Linked DNA regions of Homo sapiens. The protein of the gene in region 1 interacts with the protein of each later gene in a pairwise test. Each region holds a gene or a part of one and is shown on either strand. Other genes may lie near its edges.

Region 1 (6,969 bases):
GTGGGCGGATTATGAGGTCAGGAGGTCGAGACCATCCTGGCTAACACGGTGAAACCCCGTCTCTACTAAAAATACAAAAAATTAGCCGGACGCGGTGGCGGGCGCCTGTAGTCCCAGCTACTCGGGAGGCTGAGGTAGGAGAATGGCGTGAACCCGGGAGGTGGAGCTTACAGTGAGCCAAGATGGCGCCACTGCACTCCAGCCTGGGCGACAGAGCAAGACTCCGTCTCAAAAAAAAAAAAAAAAAAAAAGTGAAATAAAACAACATATTCTGCTATGTGTGCTGCCCATAGAAAAATTACTGTTTTGTGAAGCATTGGCTTCAGGTATGTGGATACAGACGTGTATGTGTGCTTGATCAAAACGTAAAATGTGTTTCTTACTGTGAGGTTACAGTCAAAACAGTTTGAAAAGCACAAGACATGAGGATCTATAAGGTTCCTTCAAATTCTAAGCTTCGCATGCAGCCTTCAAATTCTAACCTTTTTTACAGGTGAATAAATTAACTTAGATATGAGTTCTGGTATAACATTAAATAAATCATGGGCAATCTTTAGACATACCATCAGATAATTCAAAGTTATCCGAAACAATTACCCTTAATTCAACTGATACACTATCAGATAATTCAACATTATCCAAAACAACGCCCCTTAATTCAACTAAATATGACCAAAAAAAAAAAAGTTTCCAGGAAATAACTACACTCCACGTAAGCTGTAACACAGACACACCTGTATATTTGGGGCAAAGGGTGAGCCATGTGAAAGGCTTTCATTGTAATGTGGACATGCACACACAGAAGCAATGTTCTATGGAAACTCTTCAATTAAAAAATCTACTCAAGGTAGGATTTTCATGTTTCAAATTTTAAAGATCTAATGCCAACCTTATTTTTAATACCTTTGCCAACAGCAAATTCTAGCAAGCTATAGACTGTGTGTGACACATACTTTTGAAACCCTTTACTGGAACAGGTGGCTTTTAACTACTTACAGACTCTGACCCAATGCATCTGCATATGATACATTCTCATCTGCCTAAGCCACTTTCGAAAAGCTATAATCCCAATGAGGGCATCCCCTTCAGGACTTCAGGAGGGCATAAACATGCAACATAGAGCAAATATTAAGTACTTCCCTGTTGGACAAGCCATTTTCCCAGACAGGCAAGGAGTCACTTAGGAACATATGCGTGAGTACGAATGAAAAAAAAAAATCATTAACGTTGGTGATGTGCATAAGCAAACAGGTTTTAGATAAAAACTATAGAAGGGTCCATGGCGACAATAATGCCCGGTGTACTTCCTCTGGGGACTCTTTCATCTGAAGAAATCAAATCTCATCATAGACATGGCCTCAGGTTATTTTCACCATCACTGCTATGAGGCAGGTCGGAAAGGTCACAGATACCCAAACTGGAGCACAAACAGGTAACCTGACCTGCACATGTATAAGACTTTTGTCTAATAGTGAATAAAAGTCAGGTTTTTGGTTTGCTTGTTATAAAACAACCAGGTCTAACCCCTAAACCATGCCCCCAGTTTGTGCCTGGCTCACAGATGGCCCACCCTAAACACTTTTCAGTCCTTCTGTGAATGCTAATTTAAGGTCAGAGATTTCCCAGCCCCTGCAAGTTTCAAACTTATCCTGGACTGTTATGGAGGCCGTGTGGAAGGTGCCAGGCCCACAGCTACCAGCTAACTTCCTGCCCCACAGTGCCACTACTTTGCCCCACCAGGAGGCAAACTCCCCGCTCCACCTGACGCTCCAGCTGTTTCCAAGGTTGCCCAGACATTGTCCTGCCCGCACTTTACAACCAGAAAGTCTTTTAGAGGCCATCCTGTCTCGCCCACTGACTTTACAGGGAAGGAAACTGAGTCTAGAAACCCATGTGCCTTGCCCAAGGTCACTTCAGCTCGTACAAACGAAACTCGAACCAAGTTGTTTCTTTCTGCCCGGTACTTAAGCACCCACACTCTGCCACTCGCGGTGACCGGAGCCACAAAAGACCCAGCCGGTGGGCCGGCGACACACAGGCGAGCCAAAGCAGGCAAAATTCTCTGAGTCCGAGCTCTCCAGGAACCTGAAGGCTGGCGCGGTTTTTGGAGAGGGTGGGAGCAAGCCAGGGTGGGACAAGAAAAGCGAATTTACGGCGGCCAAGGGGCTCTCCGCTGGCCCTCAGCCCCGGAGGAGGGGCCCCTCTCCTGGCAGGCCGCCCCAGGGGCCCCAAGAGACCCCCACCCCGCCTCCCCACAGCTGGAAGTCAGGCCTGGCGACCCCGGCAGGCTCACCGGGTGCGCAGCGCCTGCCACGCGGCGTCGATGTCGGCGTAGAGGTTCTTCTCGGAGGGCTTGCCCGAGCTGACGCCGTATCCCGAGTAGTCGTAGGAGAAGATGTTGCAGTTGATGCGGGAGCCGAGGCCAATGTAGAAGCTGCACATCTGGCCCAGGTCCACGGCGTTGCCGTGCGAGAAGAGCAGCGTGTAGCGGCTGGAGGGCGCGCAGCGCACGAACATGCAGCCGAGCCGGTTGTCCCGGGCCGTGCGCGAGAAGAAGACCTCGACGGCGTCCAGCTCGCGCTGCGAGTACTGCCAGTCGGCGCGCTCGCTGAGGTGCAGGCTGCACGCACCGGGCCCCGCGCCCGCGCCCTCCTCGGGCTGCTGCGGTGCCGGCTGGGCCGCGGCGGCGGCGGCGGTAGCCTGGGCCGGGGCCGGGGCGGACGCGCCGGCGCCGCGCTGCTCCGGCGCCAGCACCGTGTAGGTGGGCTCGGGCGGCAGGAAGGCCAGCTTGGCGGCGATGCGGCTCGGGCAGGGCGGGCAGCAGAAGAGCCAGCACAGCTCACCCAGCGAGAAGCCGTTCATCCTGGGGCCTGGCTCGGGCATCGGGACGGCCTGGTGCCCGCCGCCGGCCCGGCTGGCTGGCTGGCTGGCTGGCCCGGGAGGACGGAGGACGGACGCGCGGCGAGGGAGCTGGCAGGCGAGCGCGGAGGGCGGCTGCAGCCCGCCCGCCCGGCGGCAGGAGGAGGCGGAGGCGGAGGAGGGCAGGAGGCGGGGCCGGCCCGGCGGGCGCGGCGCTCGGAGCCCGGGCGGGTCAGCGGCGGCCCCGGAACCCAGGCGAGGCGCGGGCGGCCCGGGCCCGCGCGCGGCACACAAAGCCGGCGGCGGCGTCCATGGCCGGCTCGTGCGCGCCGCCCCCCGCTCCCGTTCCCGCTCCCGCACGCCCGCCGCCGCCGCCGCCGCCGCCGCCACTTCCGGGTTACCGCGCGGCGGCGCCGCCGCTGGGACGCGGCGCAGAGCCGGGCATCGGGGCGGGGCGCTGCGGGCAAGGGCGCGGGCACCTTCCCCGGCCTGGGAAGCACCTTCTCGACCTGCGGCCGACGGGGGCTTCCAGGCGGCTCCGGGGCCCGGAGAAGCTGGGTGCCGGGGCTGGGGGCTCTGCGCCCGGACAGCTGGGCCGATCTGCAGAGGGGACCCTGGAGGGGGTGCATGTGTCCCGGGGTGGACCGCTCCCCTCCCCTCCCCCTGGGATTCCCTCCCCCAAATCCAGGTTTCTCCCGTGGATGGAGGTTCTTGGGAGTCTACTGAAAAGGAAACTAAGGGGTGGACAAGAGTTGGAATGTGCCCGAAATATTTGGCTCTCGTGTGTGCTGCTTTCTGAACTGGCTCAGTACCAAAAGTTCTCAGCACCGTAAGGGGTACCGGGGTTGTGGGATAGGGTGGTCATCAGTGTGTTTCTTATTAGGAGAGGCTGTTTCTGTATAGGTAGCAACAGCGTTTCCTTTCTAAGGGCATGGTTTTACCCTTAGTACATTTCTGTATCTATAAAAGTCAGCTGTTAGAACAGGAGGGTACTGTATTTAGCAACAAACCATGTTGAGGTTGTCATTTCTAATCCCACGTGTGGCAGATTTTCCGGTAGTAAGTATATACTAGGTATCGTTTACAGTGTTTGTGTCTCTAGAGTTGTTTTGGGTCCAGGATTTTTCAGTGGTCTTAGTCATGAACGATTCTTATACTGCTTTAAATCTACTGTAATCTTGGCAGCCACCTTTACATGATTTTTCAAATATAACTCTCGGTGCCTTGAAACTGTGCTCTGGTGCCAGTTTCCACAGAGCCTTCTATACTTCCTTTTTCCCGCCTGATTTGGCAGCTGAAGAATTCCCTTTCAGGAACTGACAGGAGATACCCTTCCTGGACTGCCAGCAGGGCAGCTAGAGACTGGGAGGTTGGCACAATCCCTACGCTGGGTCTGTTGTTTTAACTCACAGATGTCCTGAGAATTTTACCTTTCGTTGTGACTTTCCACAGGACGAATATTTTGAGCACCGTCATCTAAATGAATTGCCGATACTGATTTCATTAACCTTCAGGACCTCGCTTTTAATTTTTTCTTTTTTAAGAGACAGGGTCTTACTGTATTGTCCAGGCTGGACTCCCAACTCCTGGGCTCAAATGACCCTCCGGCCTGCCTCCCAAGTAGCTAGGACTACCGGCACATGCCACCTTGCCCAGCTAGGACCTGGGTTTTAAAAGGCCATTTCTTCACTAAAACAATTTTACTTGTTTTTGAACTATTCAAACTTGATTTTTAAAAACCTGGTAACAAAGCCTGTCCAGATTGCATATTTGAAGTCTGTTTTGAAGGTTTTCACACTTGGTGAAACTCTTCACATAAAGCCCAATTCTAGCTTTGCAGGTTTGCATTTCCTTTTTTTTTTTTTTTTTTTTAAAAAAAGAATTTTTCTGCGAAAATCCTTTAAAAAGAAAAAAAAGCTTTATACAGCTGGGCACAGTGACTCACGCCTGTAATCCCACCACTTTGGGAGGCTGAGGAGGGTGGATCACTTCAAGTCAGAAGTTCAAGACCAGCCTGGCCAACATAATGAAACTCCGTCTCTACTGAAAATACAAAAATTAGCCGGCCATGGTGGCGTGCACCTACAATCCCGGCTACTCAGGAGGCTGAGGCACGAGAATCACTTGAAGCTAGGAGGCAGAGGTTACGGTGAGCCGAGATCATGCCACTGCACTCCAGCCTGGGTGACAGAGTGAGACTATGTCTCAAAAAAATAAAAAGGCTTTCTAACTTGCTACACATTGGTATACTTTGGTCACTTTATTGTATTCAGCATTTATGTATGTAATGTTTTTTGTGCTCACAGCATCCACTGTGTTAGGTGCTACAGCTACCAAGGTGAGTAAGATAGTCCCTGCTCTCAGATACCTTACAGTCTAATTAGGGCATCAGCAGAAGATTCAAAACAGTTTTTATGTGCCTTTAAAAAAAATCAAGTCCTCATAAAAGCTAAGAAGATGGTCTTGCGTCCTGATTCAGTGGTGATATTTCTATGGGGAGCTAAGGTTATAGTCGAGTGCATTAGTCCCTAATCTAATTCAGAACAAGAATCAAACTTTGGGAACTGAGATGAAAGGGTATCTAACAGCCCCCTAGTCAGTCTTTCTCAGATACCACTCCTCTCACCTGTCCTTTATAAGAATTGAATAGCCCTTAGTTCATGAAAGGGGGGAATGATGAGAGTCTCAAGTACTCGTCTTCTGTGCTGCTGATGGAAAAGACAGTCTTTATATTTCAGATGGCCTGGCAGCAGTGTTAGCATTGTTAGAAAAATCTAAAAGCTAGATACTTGTTTATTTATACCTGGTCTCATTCCACAAGGGATTTGTGGAGTGTGATTCAGTATAATATAAATACATAAGCAAATAAATAAAAGCCTGGCTTTTGTTTTCATTCTATTACAAGGCTACACAGAGGTGGGCTGAAAGAGCATTTATTCCCCAGGAAAACATGTTGGTTCAGGTTTGTGTAAATATTCAGTTGAGACCCTAAAATTATATGCCGTAGAGTGAAGCTACCAAGCCTTTCTTATCTCATGCCACATATAGCCAGTGGTAGAGTTTCTGTAGCCCACTGACATGAGACGTGCTGCCCAGGGGATAAGAGGTTAAAGATCTCAGCACGTCTCTAACATCTAACATCTTTAACAACAAATGTGTTAGTGTGCCTTGTCATGTTGGTTTGGAAACTTTAACATACAGCACATAAAGAATGCATTTGCCCTATAAAATGTGAAAATTGGGGATTACCAGCTGTCCACTTTGACCTTAAAGCAGCAGTCTCCAACCATTGTGGCACCAGGGACTGGTTTCATGGAAGGCAATTTTTTTCCATGAAAATCCTAGTTAGATTCTCATAAGGAGTGCGCAATCTAGATCCCTCGTATGCACTGTTCACAATAGGGTTTGCACTCCTATGAGAAGCGAATGCTGCCGCTGATTTGACAGGAGGCGGAACTCAGGCAGTAATGCTCACCCACCAGCTACCCACGTCCTGCTATGTGGCCCAGTTCCTAACAGGCCACTGACCAGTACAGGTCCACGGCCCGGGGTTTGGGGACCTCTGCCTTAAATTTCTATGTCATTCTGATCATCCTAGTAGAGAAAGATCTAACTTTGAGTTCAGGTCAGCAAACATATTTACTCTGCTAGGTACTTATCATGAGTCAGTCACTGAGTTGACTTGGGAATGTAAAGGTGGCTAATGCACAGCTCCTCCTGCCCTCAACAAGTGCATTGTATGATCTGTCTCTTAGGTAACTCTGTATCCTGCCAAGCCAGCCAGTATTGATGAACTAAACAATATTCCACATAACTAAATACCCTGATCTCTATTACTTAATATTGGCCCTTTACACACTGAATTTTGGCTTCCACACTAGTCAGCTGGATGTGGAGTTGCTCAAGACCACTTTTATTTGTAAAAGTAGAACCAACTTTTGACCATAAGAGGATACTCATGCTTAAAAACAGAATCTGGTTGTCTTGATGGAATCTAAGGTAATGTTGCCCCATTGTACATTTTTTTAAAAATTTGGGACTGGATACTCAGTGAAATCAGGGATCATGTGTATTTTGTTCATCGTTTCCCCTATGACTGGCATAGAGAAG
Region 2 (7,030 bases), on another chromosome or scaffold:
CCTGAAGCTTTTTGTTCCCTACACTTCTCTTTCATTCTCAAGAATCACTTGAGCCAGTAGAATTATTTCTAATTATTCTTATAAATTACTAGTCATGAAATGCCATTTTTATCTTTGATACACGGCAAGGTGCTCATTAATTGTGGTGGGACATGCATGGGTCTAGGTGCTCTTGCATTTTTCTTTTGGCTCCTTAGTAGTCTTAAAAACTTGCTTACATATTTCCCAACGTTTCATCATAGAAGAAGGGAATAACATACTCTGAACTGTGTAATTGGTAAGAGGCACTGCTAGGAGAAGTTTGAGAGTTTTGTATAAGGAATCAAGTGATTCTGCTTCTTAGTGTGACTCTGCCACTACCTTGCTGAATGTCTCTGGGGAATTTGTTTAACCCTTTTGGCCCTAATGTTCACATGTGTAAAACAAATGATAACAATAGTAACTTCTAGTTTTACATGTTGAAGATTTTATGATCTAAAACACACACCTTGTTGGCCAGACAATTTTCAACATCATATTTTGCAGAATCCCCAATCACGTCCCCGGTAGGTAAAACAGCATAGATGAGCAACCGAGCGACAGGAGCAATGTCTGACTTCACAGGGATTGAGATGGAAAAATGGCCCTTCACTGGGGCACAAAGAGAATGAGAGGAAGCCATCATAGGTTAATGACTATTTCCATTAGTAGATGTAACAGACATAATAAACAGTAGATGTAACAAATGGATGATTACCTCTAAGGACTCTAGCTTTAGAAAAAAACCCTATCAAAGCCCTCTCTCCTCTCATAAATCATATACTCTGTTGATTTTTCACCAGCTTTAAGCTTCAGCTCACCCACCTAATGTTCTGATGCTAGTTAAGGGTATGAAGACATCCAATTCACTACCATTTGATCTAGGCCTCATACTAGAAGAGGGAAATAGAACCTGAAGTTATGAGATGTAAGAGTAAGAGTTCAACACATTGTATTCATGCTACATGCTCTTTAACCTTCTATGAGCCAATATTTGGTTCTTTCTCCATAAGAGGAACACCATGCTCCTTCAGAAGTTATTTTTTGATGCCTATGTAGATTCTTTAGAGGTTGCATTAAGTTTCCTTCAGTCTGCTATGGTGCTTCTGTGTTGCTACAAGAACTAATGAGAGAGTAGATTACTGATACTTTTCTAGCAAGTTATCTTTTAGAGTCTACTAGACTAGGAGCAACCTTCAAAGGTTTATATTATGACATATTTGCTCATGGCAAGAGTCCGCTTCAGTCGGTAGAAGTACCCAATTTAATGCTTCATAAATCATAACTATCTTGAAAGGGAAAAAAGATATTTATAATAATATAAATGACATAAATGACTCAGCACAAGACCTGGTATATACAACATACCTTGAAATCGTACATTTTCTCCACCCCATTCTCTAACACAATTCTCATTTTGAGAAGAGGTTCAAGAATATTTATGGTTTAAAAATCTGGAATAAGCATAGATTATACACAACAATATTTTATGTATTTTATTTTTCCCCCTTTGTTCTTATTTATTTATTTATTTATTTATTTACTTTTATAGAGATGGGGTCTCACTATGTTGACCAGGCTGGTCTCAAACTCCTGACCTCAAGAGATCCTCCCATCCCGTTCTCCCAAAGTACTGGGATTACAGGCGTAAGCCATCATAGCTGGCCCACACCAATATTTTAAATAACGCAAAGAAAATAGGCTGAAAAAAAAGACAACACATATTTGATAAAGGGTGAGAAAAAAACCATTATTGTTTTCCCTCCCTCAACTTTCTTTTAATTAATATTAGATGGAAATGGTCTCTCGTTACTTGAAAGTATTCCTGATATTCCCAGCTCAGGAATGGAAAACCAAACATCATATCTTCTCACTCAGAAGTAGGAGCTAAGCTATTAGGAAGTGGCAGCTAAGCTATTAGGAAGTGGGAGCTAAGTTATGAGGATGCAAAGGCATAAGAATGATACAATGGACTTTGTGGATTCAGGGGGAAGGGTGGAAGGGGGTGAGGGATAAAAGACTGCAAATTGGGTACAATGTATACTGCTCGGGTGATGGGTGCACCAAAATCTCGGAAATCACTACCAAAGAATTTATTCATTCATGTGACCAAACACCACCTGTTCCCCCAAAAACCTATGGAAAAAAAGGGAAAGTATTCTGATACTTCCGTGGTGTAAGGCTGAATGGGTCAGAATGGGGCAGCAATGCAGAGATGATGGAAATACTCACTGTCTTCCTGCTTCACAAGCAGTCCATGAGTCCCAGTTCGGACAATGCCTCCCTTTGCCATTATCTGCAAAAAAGGAAATAAAAAGAAATTAAATGTGCCAGAGAGAACACGCTTCAGTCTCACTTCAATATACTTGTTTTATTGAGTCCCTGCCGGCAATAATTCACCTCAAGAGAAATCAAACTTTCAAAAGGAACATGGATAAGAAGTTGAAGTAATGACATCTAAAGAGCTTCATGATTACTTGCTCCACAGAGAGCTTTTGTCTACAGTGAAGTCAACGCAGTAACCTCCCTTCTCACCAGATAATAGAAGGAGAGCTTCTTCAGCCCCAGCAGGGTGCCTCCATTCAGAATATAATGTGCCTGGACTGTCTGAGTATGGCCACAGGGTAGTTCATGAGACATGGGCTCAAGGTGGACAAAGCTCTTGCTTGGGGAGAACACAAGATAAGCAGTGTGATGTGCCTCTTCGTGTTCTTCTGACACCCACTGGTAGCCGTAACAGGGACTACGATCCTTGTAATTGACCTAATGAATTAGAAAAATTATATTATTTTTAGATTATACGTCATAAAGATTAATGTTCTCACAAAACTACGTAAGTTTACTGTCCTACCTTAACTAGTAGCTAGAAATCTTTTGTTCCACAATGAAAAGTGGGAGAAGGACCCCTGATTTTGTTTCTCTGCTTCAAATGTAGGCATGCTTTGTGACTTTACACTGCAGAGCCTCCTGGGATTGAGATTTATATTTCTTAAGAGCATAAAAGGAGGCATCCTTTGCTCTGATTAGCTTGCTTGAAATTTCTTTGACTGCTTTACCTGTGCAATTAGAGACACTGGAGCTATGAAACTTCATTGAGGAGAGTAAATAATCTCTAGAAATGGAAGAACTGTGCTTTCAGAAAGCAGCTGCCTCTTTTAGGGTGGATTTTGAATGGGTATTATGAATAAATAAAATATTGTAACCTTAGGGGTCTGAGAAGACATTGGTAGAAAGCATTGGTTTAAGAGCTGAGCTGATGAATTAGCTGAAGTCTACCTCTTCTGGGCTATCTTAGGCTGATTGCTATTATTATTATTTTTTTGAGACAGGGTTTTGCTCTGGCGCCCATGCTGGAGTACAGTGGCACAATCTTGGCTCAGTGCAATCTCTGCCTCTGGGGCTCAAGTGATCCTCCCAGTCAGCCTCCTGAGTTGCTAGGACTACAGGTGCATGCCACCCCACCCAGCTAATTTTTTGTATATTTTGTAGAGACAGGGTTTCACCACGTTGCCTAGGCTCGTCTCGATCTCCTGGCCTCACGCAATCCACCCACCTCAGCCTCCCAAAGTGCTGGGATTACAGGCGTGAGCTACCGTGCCTGGCCTAGGCTGACTATTTTTAATGCTCCCTGCAATCTGGATTCTAATACCTCAGAGGCCCTATTTGGGTTATATTTCCAACTTTTCTTCCTGTAGAAGTTATTCCTTAGCTCCTTTCAGGCTTCCTCTACCTTCATCCCCAGCTCCCAATAGCACTAGTGAATCCTTGAGCAAAACATTTTGTTCATATCTTAATGTATATTTTGGTGACAACACATATATGATCACCCCAAACAGGGAACAGGTAGAAATAATAATTTCATTGTCAAGACTAGCACAGTGCTGGCACGTGGAAAGCATTCAAGACACTTTTTGAAATGAGTAAACATTCAAATTAGAGGGAGGTGCTTTTATGCCATCTATTAAAGCTAAATAAATAAAATGTATTATTTATTTCTCTATAACAAGGTAAAACTCTAAAGAGGCAGGCGTTTTCCATTACCATGATTATGTAATATATATTAAATATGTATTGTATATCCATGTATCTATAGACATGTCTACATCTCTCTTGATGAATAGAGGACTGCATGCTATACCGAATAACTTATATTGGTATGAACAGGTCATCTGGAGAAAATTAGAATAGCAAGACAAAATAAAGTAAGGTAATAATTTTTGGAGTATATATATTTAAAACTAAATGCTAATTATGTTAGAATTGGCTTTTATAGTAAAAGTATCTAACAGTTAAAGGGGGCTTACTAAGTGATTCAACATGTATGATTTCACTTAATCTTCACAACCACCCCAAGAGTCAGGTGTTAGTATTGCAATCATTTTACAGATAAGGAAATGAAGCACAGAGGTTTTAGTTAATTCCTTAAAATAGGGTTGAGCCAGTATTTTTAACCACTTTATCTGATTCAGATTCTGGAATTCACACTTTTCAAAAAAGTTATTATAAACACACACACACACACAACATAAAATTACCATCTTCATTATTCTTTAGTGTACAGTTTGGTAGTATTAAGTATATCTGTTGTGCAACAGATCTCCAGAACTTTTCATCTTGTAAAACTAAACCTGAATACCAATAAGAGGAATTCCCCATTTCTCTCTTTCCCTAGCCCTTGGCAACCACCATCCTGTTTTCTGTTTCTATGACTTTGACTACTTTAGAAACCCCATGTACGTGAATCATACAGTATTGGTCTTTTTGTGACTAGCTTATTTCACTTACCATAACGTCCTCAAGGATCATTCATGCTGTAGCATGTGACAGGATTTTCTTCCCTTCTCAGGCTGCATAATATTCTGTTGTATTTATATACCACATTTTGTTTACCTGTTCATCCCTTGATGGACATTTGGGTAGCCTCGATCTCTCAGCTATTGTGAATAGTGCGGCTATGAACACGGGTGTGCAAATAGCTCTTTGAGACCCCGTTTTCGATTCTTTTGAATATATGTCCAGAAGTAGGATTACTGGATCATTTGGTAATTCTATTTTTTAATTTTTTCAGGAACTACTATACTGTTTTTCATAGTGGCTCCGCCATTTTACGTTCCCAGCAACACTGCTAAAGTCTAACCCGCACTTTTAATCACAATATACTGCCTTCTTTTCATAAACTTTAAAAAAGTTAACCTTCAATCGGTTTCTAATTGCTAGTTTTTTTCTCTCCATAGAACTAGACACAGTTTGGAAATTTTCTCACCCTTAGGTTGCAACCTTGTTTCCAAGGCTACTTCATGTCATTGGTAATTTCTTTCCAAACTTACCCTAACAGTAAGAGAGGTACCCATAACATTGGTGGTGTTGATAGAGAACTGTACAAGGCCATGCTCATCCGTGGTAGCATTGGAGTAATAGTTTGCTTCATTTCCTCTGATGAATATGACTTTATTTGGTATAGGGACGCCTTTCCCATCTACTAGGCGCACCTGAAGATTAAAAGCTGTGGATTAGTTATATTGGTAATAACTAATAGGCACCAAACATATTCATTTATCACATTTTTTAGTGCCTCCTCTATGTTGAACATGGTTCCAGGCACTGAGGACACAGCAGTGAAAAAAAACGAAGTTTCTTCCATCACAGAGCTTACTGTCTAGTGAAAGAGATAGATGCTAAATAAATATATACATAACATACACTAATTTAGTAGTAATCAATCCTAAGAAGAAAAACAGAGCAGTGTGAAGGGATAGAGAGTGATAGGGATAATAACAAGAGTGACCTGAAAAATGTCTTCTAGATATTTTGGAAGTGCTGTGTATTATTATATATAACTCTTAGAGAGTCACAGAGCACTAGAGTAATATGATAATGAAATATTTTAATCTATTAATCTATTAACTAAATTTATTTGTGCCCCAAACACCTATTTTGGAGTGGACCATTAACTTCCTATAGATTAGTGTCTGAAGTCTCATAAGTGCACAAGTAAACAATTGCCAATACATTGTCCTGTGTGTTTCTCCAGTTGCCTTAGACATGGTCTCTGCTTCTCAACCTAGATCTTCAGCCTTTTGGAAGGTAGGCAGATTTTATGACACACTTCCCATGTGAAAAATATAAAATTGAAAAGAGGCACACAGTATTAAATAAGTTGCCAAATCTAATTTACTGCTAATATTGTATTGGCAGTTGAGTAGTCCAGTTCAGATTGTAAAGGTGGCAATTCTTTTTCAGTATAAGCTACAGTTGGTAGCAGGAAGAACAATAGGCTGACCCCCATCAGTACTCATAATTGATTTACAAAATCTAAGTTTGCCAGTGAAATGTTGGCTGCATGTACAAAGACAAGAATAGGCACATAATTCTGATTTTCTTCTAGCTAGAGAGTCTTATGACAAATAGGATATTTAACAGCAATAAAATGTACTTACAAAGTACACTATCTTTCTGAGAAATTTACAAATGAGCTACACTTTCATTTTAGGAAGTTGAATACATTTTGGTGTCATGACATAACCAAGCCTTCTAGAATGTACTCCACTTTGTTGAGTCTATGCCTCTTTTACACCCTTCATAGCTGAAATCCTGTAACATTTACATTAAGAAAATGATACACAGTAAATACACATTGAGGCACATGTAACTGTGATCTCAGACTTCTAGAGTCATAAAGATCCATTTGCACATCTGCTGACAACAGAAAAATTGTAAGAGAAGATTTTTTTGGTAGATAACATGAAAATTCATAATTCAAAAATCTGAGAACCTTAAATAGCAGTGTTTTACCCCATGTTCACTGTTTTAGAAATATACTTGTTATAGAAAAATAGTGTAAATATACTATCCATGAAATAAACATTATTGTAGAATCTTTAATACTTCAAAATAAAAATTAAAACCACCTACCCACCTGTTTCCATACAAAGTTAGTGTTAGCATCGTAATGAAACTGGTCAGCATGAATTTTGAGATTCTTGTGAGAAAATGTCATAAAAACCTGAGACTG
Region 3 (7,030 bases), on another chromosome or scaffold:
TGCTTCTATGATATCAACTTTTTTTTTTTTTTAAAGATTCACATGAGTGAAATCATGTAGTATTTATCTTTCTGTGCCTGGCTTATTTCACTTAACATGATGTCCCCCAGGTCCACCTGTGTTGTCATGAATGACAAGATTTCATTCTTTTTTATGGCTATATAGTATTCCATTATATATATATATATATATATATATGCGTGTGTGTATATATATACACATATATAAACACATATATACACATAATATACATATATGTACACATATACACACACACACACACACACACACACACACACACATTATCCATTCATCTGTTGTTGGACACTTAGGTTGATTCCATATCTTGGCTGTTGTGAATAGTGCTGCATTAAACAGGGGAGATAATGGATTGCTAGATCATGTGGTAGTTCTATTTTTATTTTTTTCACCTGGCCATTCTTAAGTTTATTTTGATGACACCCGGTGACAGTTCCCTGTACCTAGAAGAAGGTGTTGGGACTCTTGATGTTGGAGTGTGGCTTGTGCTGAAGACACAGGACCTGGTAGGGCAGCAGGAACTTGATCTTGGAATTGTGGAACTGCTTGACTGTCGGCCGGTGGCAGTACCAGAAGCGGGACTTGGCACAACTTGCTTAGGTGCAGAGATTTGCTGGCAGTAGAGGGGCAGCATGTGGCATTTGGGGGTGGGCAGGCAGCAAATACTCTCTCAGTGTGCCCCAGGCCTTCATGGCATTCTCTCAGCACTTGCCACCACTTACAAAAAGGAAGTGCCGTCTTTCCTATTTTGAATTTTTTAAAGGAACCTGCATTCTGTTTTCCATAATGGCTGTACTAATTTACAGTCCCACCAACAGTGTGTAAGTGCTGCCTTTCTCCACATCCTCACCCGCACCAACACTCGTTTTCTTTTGTCTTTTTGATAAGAGCTGTTCTAACTGGAGCGAGGTAGTGTCTCATTGTGGTTTTGATTGGCATTTCCCTGATGATTAGTAGTGTTGAGCATTTTTTCATATACCTGTTGGCCATGGTACGTCGTCTTCTGAGAAATGTCTGTTGAGGTCTTTTTCCCTTTTGAATCAGGTTTTTTTTTTTTTTTTCTGCTGTTAAGTTCCTGATATATTCTGGATATTAACGCTTTGTCAGATGGATAGTTTGCAAATATTTTCTCCCATTCTGTAGGTTGTTTCTTCACTCTTAATTGCTTCCTTTGCTGTGCAGAAGTTTTTAGTTTGATGTCATTTCATTTGTCCATTTTTGCTTTTGTTACCAGTGCTTTTAAGGTCTTACTGAAAAAAACACTTGCTCAGCCCAGTGTTGTGAGGCATTTCTCCTGTGCTTTCTTCTAGTAGTTTCATGGTTTTGGATTTTACATTTAAGTCTTGAATCCATTTTGAGTTAATTTTTGTATGTGGGGAAAGGTAGGGGTCTGGTCTCCTGCATATGGATATCCGATTTTCCCAGCACCATTTATTAAAGAGACTGTCTTTTCCCCTGTGTGTGTTCTTGGCACCTTTGTTGAAAATCAGTTGGCTGTAGGTGCATGAATTTATTTCTGGGCTCTCTGTTCTGTTCTATTTTGTCTGTTTTTATGCCATAACATGCTGTTATGGTTACTGTTATAGCTTTGTGTAGTATGGTTTGAAGTCAGGTAATATGATACCTCCAGCTTTGTTCTTTTTGCTCACAACTGCTTTAGCCATTTGGGGTCTTTTGTGGTTCCATACGAATTTCAGGATTGTTTTTTCTGTTTCTGAAGAATGCCATTGGTGTTTTGATAGGGATTGCATTAAATCTGTAAATTGCTTTGGGTATTTTAATAATATTCTTCCAATTTGTGAATGAACACGGGATATCTTTCCATTTTTTGTGTGTCCCCTTCAACTTCTTTCATCAATGTTTTATAGTTTTCAGTGTAGAGATCTTTTGCCAGCTTGGTTTAATTTATTCCTAGGTATCTTATTTTTTTGGTAGCTATTGTAAATCGAATTGTTTTCTTGATCTCTTTTCCAATGGTTCACTGTCACGTATAGAAACGCTGTTTTTTGTACATTGATTTTTGTATCCCACAACTTTACTGAATCCGTTTATTAGTTCTGTCTGCAAACAGGGATAACTTGACTTCCTCCTTTCCAATTTGGATACCTTTTATTTCTTTCTGTTGCCCGATTGCTCTGGCTATGACCTCCAGTACTATGTTGAATAAAAACGGTCAAAGTAGGCATCTTTGTCTTGCTCCTGATCTTAGAGGAAAGGCTTTCAGCTTTTCCCATTGATTATGCTGTTAGTGATGGGTGTGTCGTGGGGAATTCCCATGAGCATCATCATTTCATCGGAAAGGGCTCGAGGACACAGTGAGGAGGGGCTGGATAGGAGAAGCATAGTGGTCATGGGAAATGAACCAATCATTGAGCACTGACTCTTCTTTTGTTGGGATTGGGTTTTTTGGGGACTGCAGCATTCTTTTATACAGCAAAATGCAAGAGCCTGGAGCTGTGCTGGATGTGGTGGGTGCCTGGCTCCAAGACCCAGCCAATCAAAACCTTCCAGAATATGGAGCCTTGGCAGAATTTCACGTGCAGCGGGTGCTGCTGCCTCTGGGCTGCTTATCGGAGGCTGAGGAGCTAGTGGTGGGCTCTGCAGCCTTTGGTGAGGAGCGGCGACTGGATGTACTTCAGGCCATTCACACAGCGAGGCAGCAGCAGAAACAGGAACACTCAGGCTCTGAGGAGGCCCAGAAGCCAAACCTGGAAGGTAGGACATTATCCCTCTGCGACCTCTGTAAAGTGGACTTGCGGGCTTGCACTGTACCTCGGGGTCTGTCGTGAAACTCCTGCGAGCTTAGAAGCAGTTCTTTGTATGAATAACTCTTGAGTCACAGAATAGGAGGCCTGTTGATTTGCTTCACAAAGTGAAGGCCAGACCCTCTGAAGTTGGCAGTGGAAGGAGAATCTCCACATGGGAAGGTGTTGCTGGGTCTTGGGACCTTGACTTGTCTTTTGAAAGTCATTTTCCCATTGGAGTCCTCTGATGAGGTCTCTTGCTTCCACCATACTGGTCTGGGTGGGATGTCCTTCCTCCTTTAAATGCTGGCCCCAATACAGACACAGCTGAGATCTGCTGGGATAGCCAAAGGAATATCAGAAACTAATTTGCAGACCCTTTCCCTGGTCGCTGAATCTTTTCCGCCCTTTTCCTTGAGTGATGATCTAGTCTAGTTGTGAATACTTCAAGGACAGAAAGTCACCATCTCTCTCTCTTTTTTTTTTTTTTTTTTTTTGTTTGAGACGGAGTCTCGCTCTGTCGCCCAAGCGGGAATGCAGTGATGCGATCTCCGCTCACTGCAAGCTGCACCTCTCAGGTTCACGCCATTCTCCTGCCTCAGCCTCCTGAGTAGCTGGGACTACAGGTGCCCGCCACCACACCTGGCTAATTTTTGTATTTTTAGTAGAGACGGGGTTTCACCGTGTTAGCCAGGATGGTCTCAATCTCCTGACCTCGTGATCTGGCTGCCTTGGCCTCCCAAAGTGCTGGGATTACTGGCATGAGCCACTGCGCCTGGCCTGAAAGGTTCTGAAAGGTTTTAAAAAACTTTTACAAAGATGCATTCAATATAGTAAATAATATATAGTCAAAATAAGTAATAAACACGAGGAAAACAATTTATATTCATGAGATTTGCAAGAGTATGTGCAGTTAAGGAATGAAGGCTTTAGCCAATACCTAATACCCTTTTACTAAACTCTTTTTTTTTTTTTTTTGAGACGGAGTTTTGCTCTTGTTGCCCAAGCTGGAGTGCAATGGCACGATCTTGGCTCACTGCAGCCTCCACCTCCCAGATTCAAGTGATTCTCGTGCCTCAGGCTCCCAAGTAGCTGGGACTACAGGCGCACACCACCACGCCTGGCTAATTTTTGTATTTTTAGTAGAGACGGGGTTTCACCATGTTAGCCAGGATGGTCTCGATCTCCTGACCTTGTGATCCACCTGCCTCAGCCTCCCAAAGTGCTGGGATTACAGGCATGAGCCACTGCGCCTGGCCTGCTCAGGTCTTAGAAGCAAGCACAGAGGTCGGGGTCAGGGAAGCTGATTCCCATGACATCCCTGAAGCTGTGCTCTGTCTCCCTGGCCAGGCTCTGTCTCCCACAAGTTCCTGTCACTACCGATGTTGGTTCGCCAGCTTTGGGACTCTGCGGTGAGCCACTTCTTTTCTCTGCCCTTCAAAAAGAGTCTCCTGGCTGCCTTGATCCTCTGTCTCCTGGTGGTGAGATTTGATCCAGGTAAGAGGTGGAGACTCTCCCCTGTCCTTCCTGGGAAGGGGTTGTTGCCAGGGCTGGGCCTGTGGGAGTGGGTGTTTGTCAGAGTCCTACTGGGGAGGGGAGTCTCTCCTATGACATTTCCCCTGAGTCTGTTCCACAAGGAGGAATTGCTAGACTGGGCATGAGCCAGCCCCACCCATAAGGAGAGGCCAGTCCTGGAGTCTATGAGAGCAGCCAGGAGAAAGTCCACTTGGCCCTGCTGACTCCTGAACATGGACTGAGTCATAGTCCTCCACTTTTTCTAGGGCTGAACTCTGACTAGAACCTCAGAATTTAAAAAAACTTCCTCTTGGCCAGGCACGGTGGCTCACGCCTGTAATCCCAGCACTTTGGGAGGCCAAGGCAGGCAGATCACAAGGTCAGGAAATCGAGACCAGCCTGGCCAACATGGTAAAGCCCCATCTCTACTAAAGATACAAAAAAAATTAGCCAGGTGTAGTGGCACATGCCTGTAGTCCCAGCTACTTGGGAGGTTGAGGCAGGAGAATAGCTTGAACCCGGGAGGCGGAGGTTGCAGTGAGCCAAGATCGCACTGCTGCACTCCAGCCTGGGCAATAGAGCGAGACTCTGTCTCAAAACAAAAAACAAAAAACAAAAAAACTTCCGCTCATCAGAATATCTACAAAAGTGTTAATTCAAGTATTAATGTCTCATGAAGTGTTAATTCAAAGCAAGTTGTAAATGAAAAACTCATACATTTTAGAAAATGTGGAAAATAGGCCGGACATGGTGGCTCACACCTGTAATCCCAGCACTATGGGAGGCCAAGGAGGGTGGATCACCTGAGGTCAGGAGTTCGAGAACAGCCTGGCCAATATGGTGAAACCCCGTCTCTACTAAAAATACAAAAATTAGCCAGGTGTGGTGGTGCGTGCCTGTAATCCCAGCAACTGGGGAGGGTGAGGCAGGGAGCATTGCTTGAACCCAGGAGGCGGAGGTTGCAGTGAGCCAAGATTGCACTGTTGCCCTCTGGCCTGGGCTACAAGAGCGAAACTCTGTCTCAAAAAAGAAAAAAAAATGTGGAAAATAGAGAAAAGTATAAAGAAGGGCATAGAAATCTGCTACTCTGCTGTGCTTTCAGTCTTTTTCTATGGATATAGAGATTGTAGGCAGTTACATGTCACACATATGCTTTCAAGCATGGCCTTAAATCGCTAACTATTCCAGTTCACAGGAATGCCCCTAAGTAATTTAACAACCCCTATTATTGAACATTTGGGTGATTATTCTGTTTTCTGCCTCGCTGTGAAGAAGGAATGAGCTCCCTAAGTGATATTTGGGAACAACCCCAGTTATTTCCTGAGGATTGACCCCTCAGGTGCATGAAGCCAAACTTGGCACTCGCTCTTTTAGATTTTTTTGTGTTACTCAGTGTGAGTTATGTTCTAATCTCTACTCTTCTCATGAATTTAGACTTAGAATATGATTAAATAAGTTTCAAAATTTAAGAGGAAATCAGAAACCCTTATACTGGTCCCTTCAAATGGTTTGTCTATTTTGAGAAGTGCCATTTGTTAACTTAGTCTTTAGATTCTCCCTGTTTCCCCATTTCTCTTTCTCTTATTCAGTGAGCTTTTTTAAAATATTTATTTATTTATTTTTATTTTTATTTTATTTTATTTATTTAGTTTTTGATACTGGGTCTTTCTCTGTTGCCCAGGCTGGAGTGCACCGGCGTGATCTTGGCTCACTGCAACCTCTGCCTCCTAGGCTCAAGCGATCTTCTCTCCTCAGCCTCCCAAGTAACTGGGACTACAGGCATGTGCCTCCATGCCCGGCTAATTTTTTATTTTTATTTTTGAGACAGAGTCTTGCTCTGTTGCCCAGGTTGCAGTGGCGTGATCTCGGCTTACTGCAACCTCCGCCTCCTGGGTTCAAGCGATTCTCCTGCCTCAGTATCCCAAGTAGCTGGGATTACAGGCACACACCACCATGCCAGGCTACATTTTGTATTTTTAGTAGAGACGGGGTTTCGCCATGTTTGCCAGGCTGGTCTCCAACTTCTGGCCTTAAGTGATCCTCTCACCTCAGCCTCCCACAGTGCTGGGATTATAGGCACAAGCCATCATGCCTGGCCAGCGAGGTTTCCGTCACATAGCTCAGAGTTGTCCTTCTAACCCGTCTGCTGAATGCTGAGCAGGGATCCCCTGTGGACGACTCTGTTTGCTTTACAAAGAAGTCACGAGTTAGCGCTCGGAATGCTCAGTATCATCAGCGTTCATCCCTGGCCACCTCCTGACTGATACAGATTTAGAAACTCTTTATGATTCTTTATGGTTCCCGTAAGCCCTTTAGTCTCGTAAACCCTGGTCTCCTAGTGGGGATGGCATGAGGACATTTGAGCCTGCTCTTTCCAAGGCTGCTTCAGAAGGGCCTGGCCCAGTGGCCCTGACCCTCAGCAGCAGGCCCGACTCATTGGAGTGATGATGGTGGGGGAGGAGAACCTGCACCTGCAGGCTGAGGATCGCATGAGCCCCAGAGATTGAGGCTGCAGTGAGCTGAACACAGACTGCACTGTACTCTAGCCTAGGTGACAGAGCGAGACCCTGTCTCTAAAAAAAACAAAACAAAACCAACTATGTGTAATTGGTAGTGGAGTCTCCCAGGGTGGGAGATGGCAGAGTGACAGGTGAGAGGGGTGGGACGTTCACTGTAGTCTCCCTCTGCCCTGCAGCTTCCCCTTCCTCCCTGCACTTCCTCTACAAGCTGGC
Region 4 (5,796 bases), on another chromosome or scaffold:
AGCTTGAAGGAGGTTAGGCTTCATTCATAAATGTGGAAAGTTTCCAGCAGCCCTACCCAATAAGATACATCAAATGAAGTCACCCTCATCTTCGTTCTTTTTATTTATTTATTTTTCATTCCTTTTTTTTTTTTTTTGAGACAGGGTCTTGCTCTGTCACCCAAGCTGGAGTGCAGTGGTGTGATCTCAGCTCACTGCAACCTCTGCCTCCCAGGTTCAAGTAATTCTTCTGCCTCAGCCTCCTGAGTAGCTGGGATTACAGGTGCATGCCACCACGCTCGGCTATTTTTTTTTTTTTTTTTTGTATTTTTGGAGAGATGGGGTTTTGCCATGTTGGCCAGGCTGGTCTTGAACTCCTGACCTCAGGTGATCCACCCACCTCGGCCTCCCAAAGTGCTAGGATTACAGGCGTGAGCCACTGCACCTGGCCCTTGTCTTCATTCTTCAGGAACAGAGGAAAGGACTGGAAAGAACAAGTCTTCTTGTTAAGGGAATGGTTGGGTTGAAGAAATCACAGGAGAAAGCCCTTGTCCGAGCAGGAATATCCACTTTATTTGGACTCCATGACACCGTTCCTATGCCCTTGACTAGATGTGAATGTATTATACATTGTTCTAGATTTGGGGGAAAAAAATCTCTTATGACATAAAATTGGTAGGGAATGGGTTTATCAGAAAGGGGATACAAAACATACCCTAAGCTCCAAATCATTCACTTCTTCTTGGGTAAAGAGCTAACTGAATGAAAGAAATTGATTTAACACTTAAATTAGACACCAACCACCTTTATTGGCTGCCACCCTAAATTAGTTTTCCTTAAAACAGTAATATTTCACTTTTACTGTTTTTTTTTTCCATTAAAGCAACACCATTGTGCTGCAAAACTAACTCTATGCAATTAAGTACCTGATACATGTTTTCTGCTTTTAACAAGTGATAGAAAAGGTTACATCATCTCATTAAGAAAACATTTTCCTTAGACATTTCGTTTGGTTTTGGTTTTCTGTTGAAAGAGTTATAGCAGATGGCTATTTCAAAGATTGGTTCTTTCTCCTTTCACAAGTCGAGCTCGAAACATCCAAATATCCTGGAAATAATATCAAACAGAGTGGGTTTATGGAACACTTCAATCTGCCCTCCATTAACCTTCAATTTCACCATAACACAAAATTGATTTCTAGCTTCTATGAAAGGTTACATAGGGAAAATAATCCCTGTAAGTTATATTCATTAGTAAACAAAACAACTCAACTTAAACTACTTACTCAACTCTTTTTTAAAAATTTTTTGGGGACACAGTCTCACCCCATTGCCCAGGCTGGAGTGCAGCGGCTCACTGCAACCTCTGCCTCCCGGGTTCAAGCGACTCTCCTGCCTCAGCCTCCCGAGTAGCTGGGATTACAGGTGTGCACCACCACGCCCAGCTAACTTTTTGTATTTTCAGTAGAGACAGGGTTTCGCTACACTGGCCAGACTGATCTCAAACTCCTGGCCTCAAGTGATCTGTCCGCCTTGGCCTTGCAAAGCCTCCCAAGTGCTGGGATTACAGGTATGAGCCACCACTCCTGGTCTACTTAACCGACTTCTAAAACAGTGTTAACTAAATTAAGTCAGTGGGTCCCCCAGCTGCTGTCAGTTCTGTTTTATTCAGGATATTTGTTGGTGCCAGCTAACATAACTGGGTCAATGTCATGTCGGGTTACAGAACAAACAGTTCACTGCCATTTTTCTGCATAATTTTTTTTTTTGAGACGGAATTTTGCTCTTGTTGCCCAGGCTGGAGTGCAATGGTACCATCTTGGCTCATTGCAACCTCTGCCTCCTGGGTTCAAATGATTCTCCTGCCTCAGCCTCCCAAGTAGCTAGGATTAGAGGCATGTGCCACCACACCCGGCTAATTTTATATTTTTAGTAGAGACGGGGTTTCACCATGTTGGTAAGGCTGGTCTCAAACTCCTGACCTCAGGTGATCCACCCGCCTCAAACACCCAAAGTGCTGGGATTACAGGAGTGAGCCACTGCACCTGGCCTGATGACTCTTATGTTACTTGTCTGAGCCTTTTTGAGTGTTCTACTCTTGATGAGATGATAATAGTGAACATGGTATCAAGGATTACTGCTTTGTTTGGTGGGTTTCTTCCCCCTCTGCCCTTAATAAAATAATTTAGATGTTCTTATTTCTTGGTTCTTGTTTATTTTTGAGCAAACAGCAAGGTATGGTGGAAAGAATAATTTTCAGATTTGACCTGACTCTAAAATCAAGCTTTGTCGCTTAGCTAGCTTAGATCAGCCTCTGGGATTTGTTTTCTTGTCATTGACAGCATGGAGTTTATACTGCCCCACCGGGTTTTGGTGAAGAAAATAAGAAAATGAATATGAATGTGCTTTTGTACTTTACAGAGAACTATGTAGCAGAGGTTAATATTGTTATTCTAAATATAACTTACAGAGTAATTAAACTAAATGTGGGAGGTATTCATTTAGCACAACCTTGACAAACCTCAAACATAATGTACATATATTTGTTCTCCCTTAAAATTTAGGATGTTAGCTCAAAGCTCCAGTTGACAAAATGTATAGGCATTTTAGGTACTGAACAAAAAGTGAGGAAGGACAAGAATTTCTAGGACCTGCAAATGCAAAATCAGAGCATTTTCAGAGATGCGACACATTTCCAGGTTCTAAAGGGAGAAGCAAGATTCCTTCTTTTGTTGTTGTTGAGACAGAGTCTCGCTCTGTCGCCCAGGCTGGAGTGCAGTGGCATGATCTCGGCTCACTGCAAGCTCCGCCTCCTGGGTTCACACCATTCTCCTGCCTCAGCCTCCCGAGTAGCTGGGACTACAGGCATGTGCCACCAGACCCAGCTAATTTTTGTATTTTTAGTAGAGACGGGGTTTCACCATGTTGGCCAGGAAGGTCTCGATCTCCTGACCTTGTGATCTGCCTGCTTTGGCCTCCCAAAGTGCTGGGATTACAGGCGTGAGCCACCTCGCCCAGCCATAAATACTCTATTCTATATTAATAAACATGGCCTATGATTGGATCTCAAACCTATAACTTTCCTTCTATCCCTTCAGAAGGCTTTTTTTTTGACACATGGTCTCACTCTGTCACCCAGGCTGGAGTGCAGTAGTGCAATCAGCTCACTGCAGCCTTGACCTCAAGCTCCAAGTGAGCCTTTCAACTCAGCCTTCGAGTAGCTGGGACTACAGCTATGCTCCACCCAACCTGACTAATTTTTATTTTTATTTCTTTTTTAGTAGAGATGGAGTCTCACTGTGTTTCTCAGGCTGGTCTCCAACTCCTGAGCTCAAGTGATTCTCCTGCTTTGGCTTCCCAAAGTGTTGGGATTTACAGGCATGAGCCACCATGCCCAGCCAGAAGGCAAGGTTTTGTCTTTGATTTTCTCTCATCTCAATCTGTAGTTTTGTTTTCCTTTACTGTCCTGTGTGAAACAGGACAGCCAGCACACCTCTGGACAGCCCCAAGACATAAAGAAGCAGCAGGAAGTTCTCAAGCCTCCTGCACGGGGGCACAAGTGTAAATGGAAATTCCATTGTCATTTTTGGTGGGGGCTCAGCGATGTCCCTAAAATGAATCTAAACCCAAGCACTATATACTGTCAAATAAACTAGGTATGAGAATTATGAAGCATCTGAAGAAAAGAAAAACCTGAGATTTTTACCTTGCTATTGTATACAAACATACCTTCAAGTTCACGCTATTTTCAGCTCCAAAGAATTTATGTGCTATTCCTACAACTTCCTTCTCGATGTTTTCTTGACTGGTGCCCTTCACGTCAATGTAGTGGCAATCGGCACTGGCGAAATGGCAGGAAATTGCCTGTGCAAAGTGAACAAATTGATATTGGAGAAAAACATCCCATGAATACCAGTGACCAAGCAGGGAGTCTTTCTTTTAGAAAGTCATTTATTTCACTCAGTATTTGATTTCTAAGTGGAAAGTCAGGTCCATTGCATCCTGTGTCAATCTCTTTGTAACTAAGCCTGTTTTTGTTTCCAGCTAGAAGTTAATTGAGAAATTTCAAAAGATCGTTAACCAGATGTGACATGTATTTTTGAAAGGTATATATGGGAGAGGGAATGGAATTATGTCAGTAAGAGGTATTTAGTTTTTTTTTTTTTTAGCATTTTATTTTCCTAATGAATGAATATCCCAAAGTCTTAAGAAGGACTGCATTCCACGGCAGTTTATCTCATAAGTTAGTTACCTGGTCCAATTTGGGATGAATTGTTATTTCAGTGGCAATAGATTATGAAAAGAACTAAAAATACCTTGAGATAGAAAATAATGCAGACACCTTCTCTCAAATCAAAAGGACATTTAAAAGCCAATACCAGTGACATATATTACCCCTCTTGCTTCCTTCTGAGGGTAAGGATGAAATTGCTTGGTTCTCCCTATTTTAGAAAAAGTTATAAACAGATCTAAGCTGCAAGGCAATCGTTAAAACTTACCTTTTTTGTCACAAGTGATCACACTTGTCAGAAAGACTTTCTACTTTGCCCCAAACAACAAATTTCTAGGGAGTGGAGTCACAAACTCCATTGCCTCTGTAAGCCCTGGTGCCATACGGCACTGTAACAGAGCCCAAGGCAAAGGGAAAACACGCACCCCTATATCTGTATCTTTATGAAATTATAGTAATATTTTCCCAGAACATTAAAGTCATTAAGCCTGGGCACGGTGGCTCATGCCTGTAATTCCAGTACTCTGGGAGGCCAAGGCAGGAGGATCACTTGAGGCCAGGAGTTCAAGACTCGCCTGGGCAACATAGCAAGACCATGTCTGTACAAAAAATGAAAAAATAAAATTAGCCAGGTGTGGTCATGCATGCCTGTAGTCCCAGCTACTTGAGAGGTTGAGGTGGGAGGATGGCTTGAGCCTCAGTGTTCCAAGATGCAGTGAGCTATGATTGCACCACTGCACTCCAGCCTGGGCAAAAGAGCAAGATGCTGTCTCAAATAAATATATAAACAAATAATAAAATGTTTTAAAATAAAAGCATTAAAAAACATTGGGCCAGGCGAGATGGCTCACATCTGTCATCCTAGCATTTTGGGAGGCCAAGGTGAGACGATCACTCAAGGCCAGGAGTTCGAGACCAGATTGGCCAACCTGGGGAAACCCCATCTCTACTAAAAAATACAAAAATTAGCTGGGCATAGTGGCGTGTGCCTGTAGTCTCAGCTACTCACGAGGCTGAGGCAGGAGAATTGCTTGAACCTGGGAGGCCAAGGTTGCAGTCAGCTGAGATTGCATCACTGCAATCCAGCCTGGGCAACAGAGTGAGACTCCACCTCAAAAAAAAAAAAAAAAGAAAAAAGGAAAATTGCCAAGTCTATATATTAAAACCCACAACATGATTTGTGTCGTTGTGCCTGCACCTCGCTACTTGCACAGCTCTGAAGGTTGTGCTAGTGTGGGGTCCAATAGTGTCTTTTATTTAAACTTTTGGCATTGTGCGCAGCCAATACATTGGGTATTTTGCATTAATTTTGATTTTTTTAAATTTCGCATTAAAATGTTACTAAACTCGATTGCAGAGTCTTTTTTTGGCATCCCCTTACATTTTACCCCTGGAGAGAGTGCCCCAACTTGTCCCACCCTAATCCTGACCCTGATGAGGCTGGTGGAAATATGAATGAATGGAAGACGAAATTTGGCCCCTAACCCATGGCCTCAGGAGACAACAGTGATTTTTTCTTTTTTAGTAGAAGTGGGGTCTCGCCATGTTGCCCAGACTGGTCTAGAGCTCTTGGTCCCAAGTGATCCT

Evidence for each region.
Region 2: the proteins of ABHD17C (region 1) and A2M interact in binary tests that used the Homo sapiens proteins (3 or more experiments, as listed by UniProt).
Region 3: the proteins of ABHD17C (region 1) and PEX26 interact in binary tests that used the Homo sapiens proteins (3 or more experiments, as listed by UniProt).
Region 4: the proteins of ABHD17C (region 1) and PHYH interact in binary tests that used the Homo sapiens proteins (3 or more experiments, as listed by UniProt).

Annotation. Positions count from the first base shown.
Region 1 is NC_000015.10:80,691,344-80,698,312, reverse strand, and holds the start of ABHD17C (alpha/beta hydrolase domain-containing protein 17C), read right to left. Parts: upstream 3,004-6,969; 5' UTR 2,884-3,003; coding exon 2,294-2,883; intron 1-2,293. UniProt on the Homo sapiens protein: Hydrolyzes fatty acids from S-acylated cysteine residues in proteins. Has depalmitoylating activity towards NRAS and DLG4/PSD95.
Region 2 is NC_000012.12:9,098,894-9,105,923, forward strand, and holds part of A2M (alpha-2-macroglobulin isoform a precursor), read right to left. Parts: intron 5,508-7,030; coding exon 5,346-5,507; intron 2,782-5,345; coding exon 2,554-2,781; intron 2,315-2,553; coding exon 2,251-2,314; intron 631-2,250; coding exon 488-630; intron 1-487. UniProt on the Homo sapiens protein: Is able to inhibit all four classes of proteinases by a unique 'trapping' mechanism. This protein has a peptide stretch, called the 'bait region' which contains specific cleavage sites for different proteinases.
Region 3 is NC_000022.11:18,080,979-18,088,008, forward strand, and holds part of PEX26 (peroxisome assembly protein 26), read left to right. Parts: intron 1-2,458; coding exon 2,459-2,754; intron 2,755-4,133; coding exon 4,134-4,280; intron 4,281-6,993; coding exon 6,994-7,030. UniProt on the Homo sapiens protein: Peroxisomal docking factor that anchors PEX1 and PEX6 to peroxisome membranes. PEX26 is therefore required for the formation of the PEX1-PEX6 AAA ATPase complex, a complex that mediates the extraction of the PEX5 receptor from peroxisomal membrane.
Region 4 is NC_000010.11:13,277,269-13,283,064, forward strand, and holds the end of PHYH (phytanoyl-CoA dioxygenase, peroxisomal isoform a precursor), read right to left. Parts: intron 3,843-5,796; coding exon 3,708-3,842; intron 1,087-3,707; coding exon 1,033-1,086; 3' UTR 531-1,032; downstream 1-530. UniProt on the Homo sapiens protein: Catalyzes the 2-hydroxylation of not only racemic phytanoyl-CoA and the isomers of 3-methylhexadecanoyl-CoA, but also a variety of other mono-branched 3-methylacyl-CoA esters (with a chain length of at least seven carbon atoms) and straight-chain acyl-CoA esters (with a chain length longer than four carbon atoms).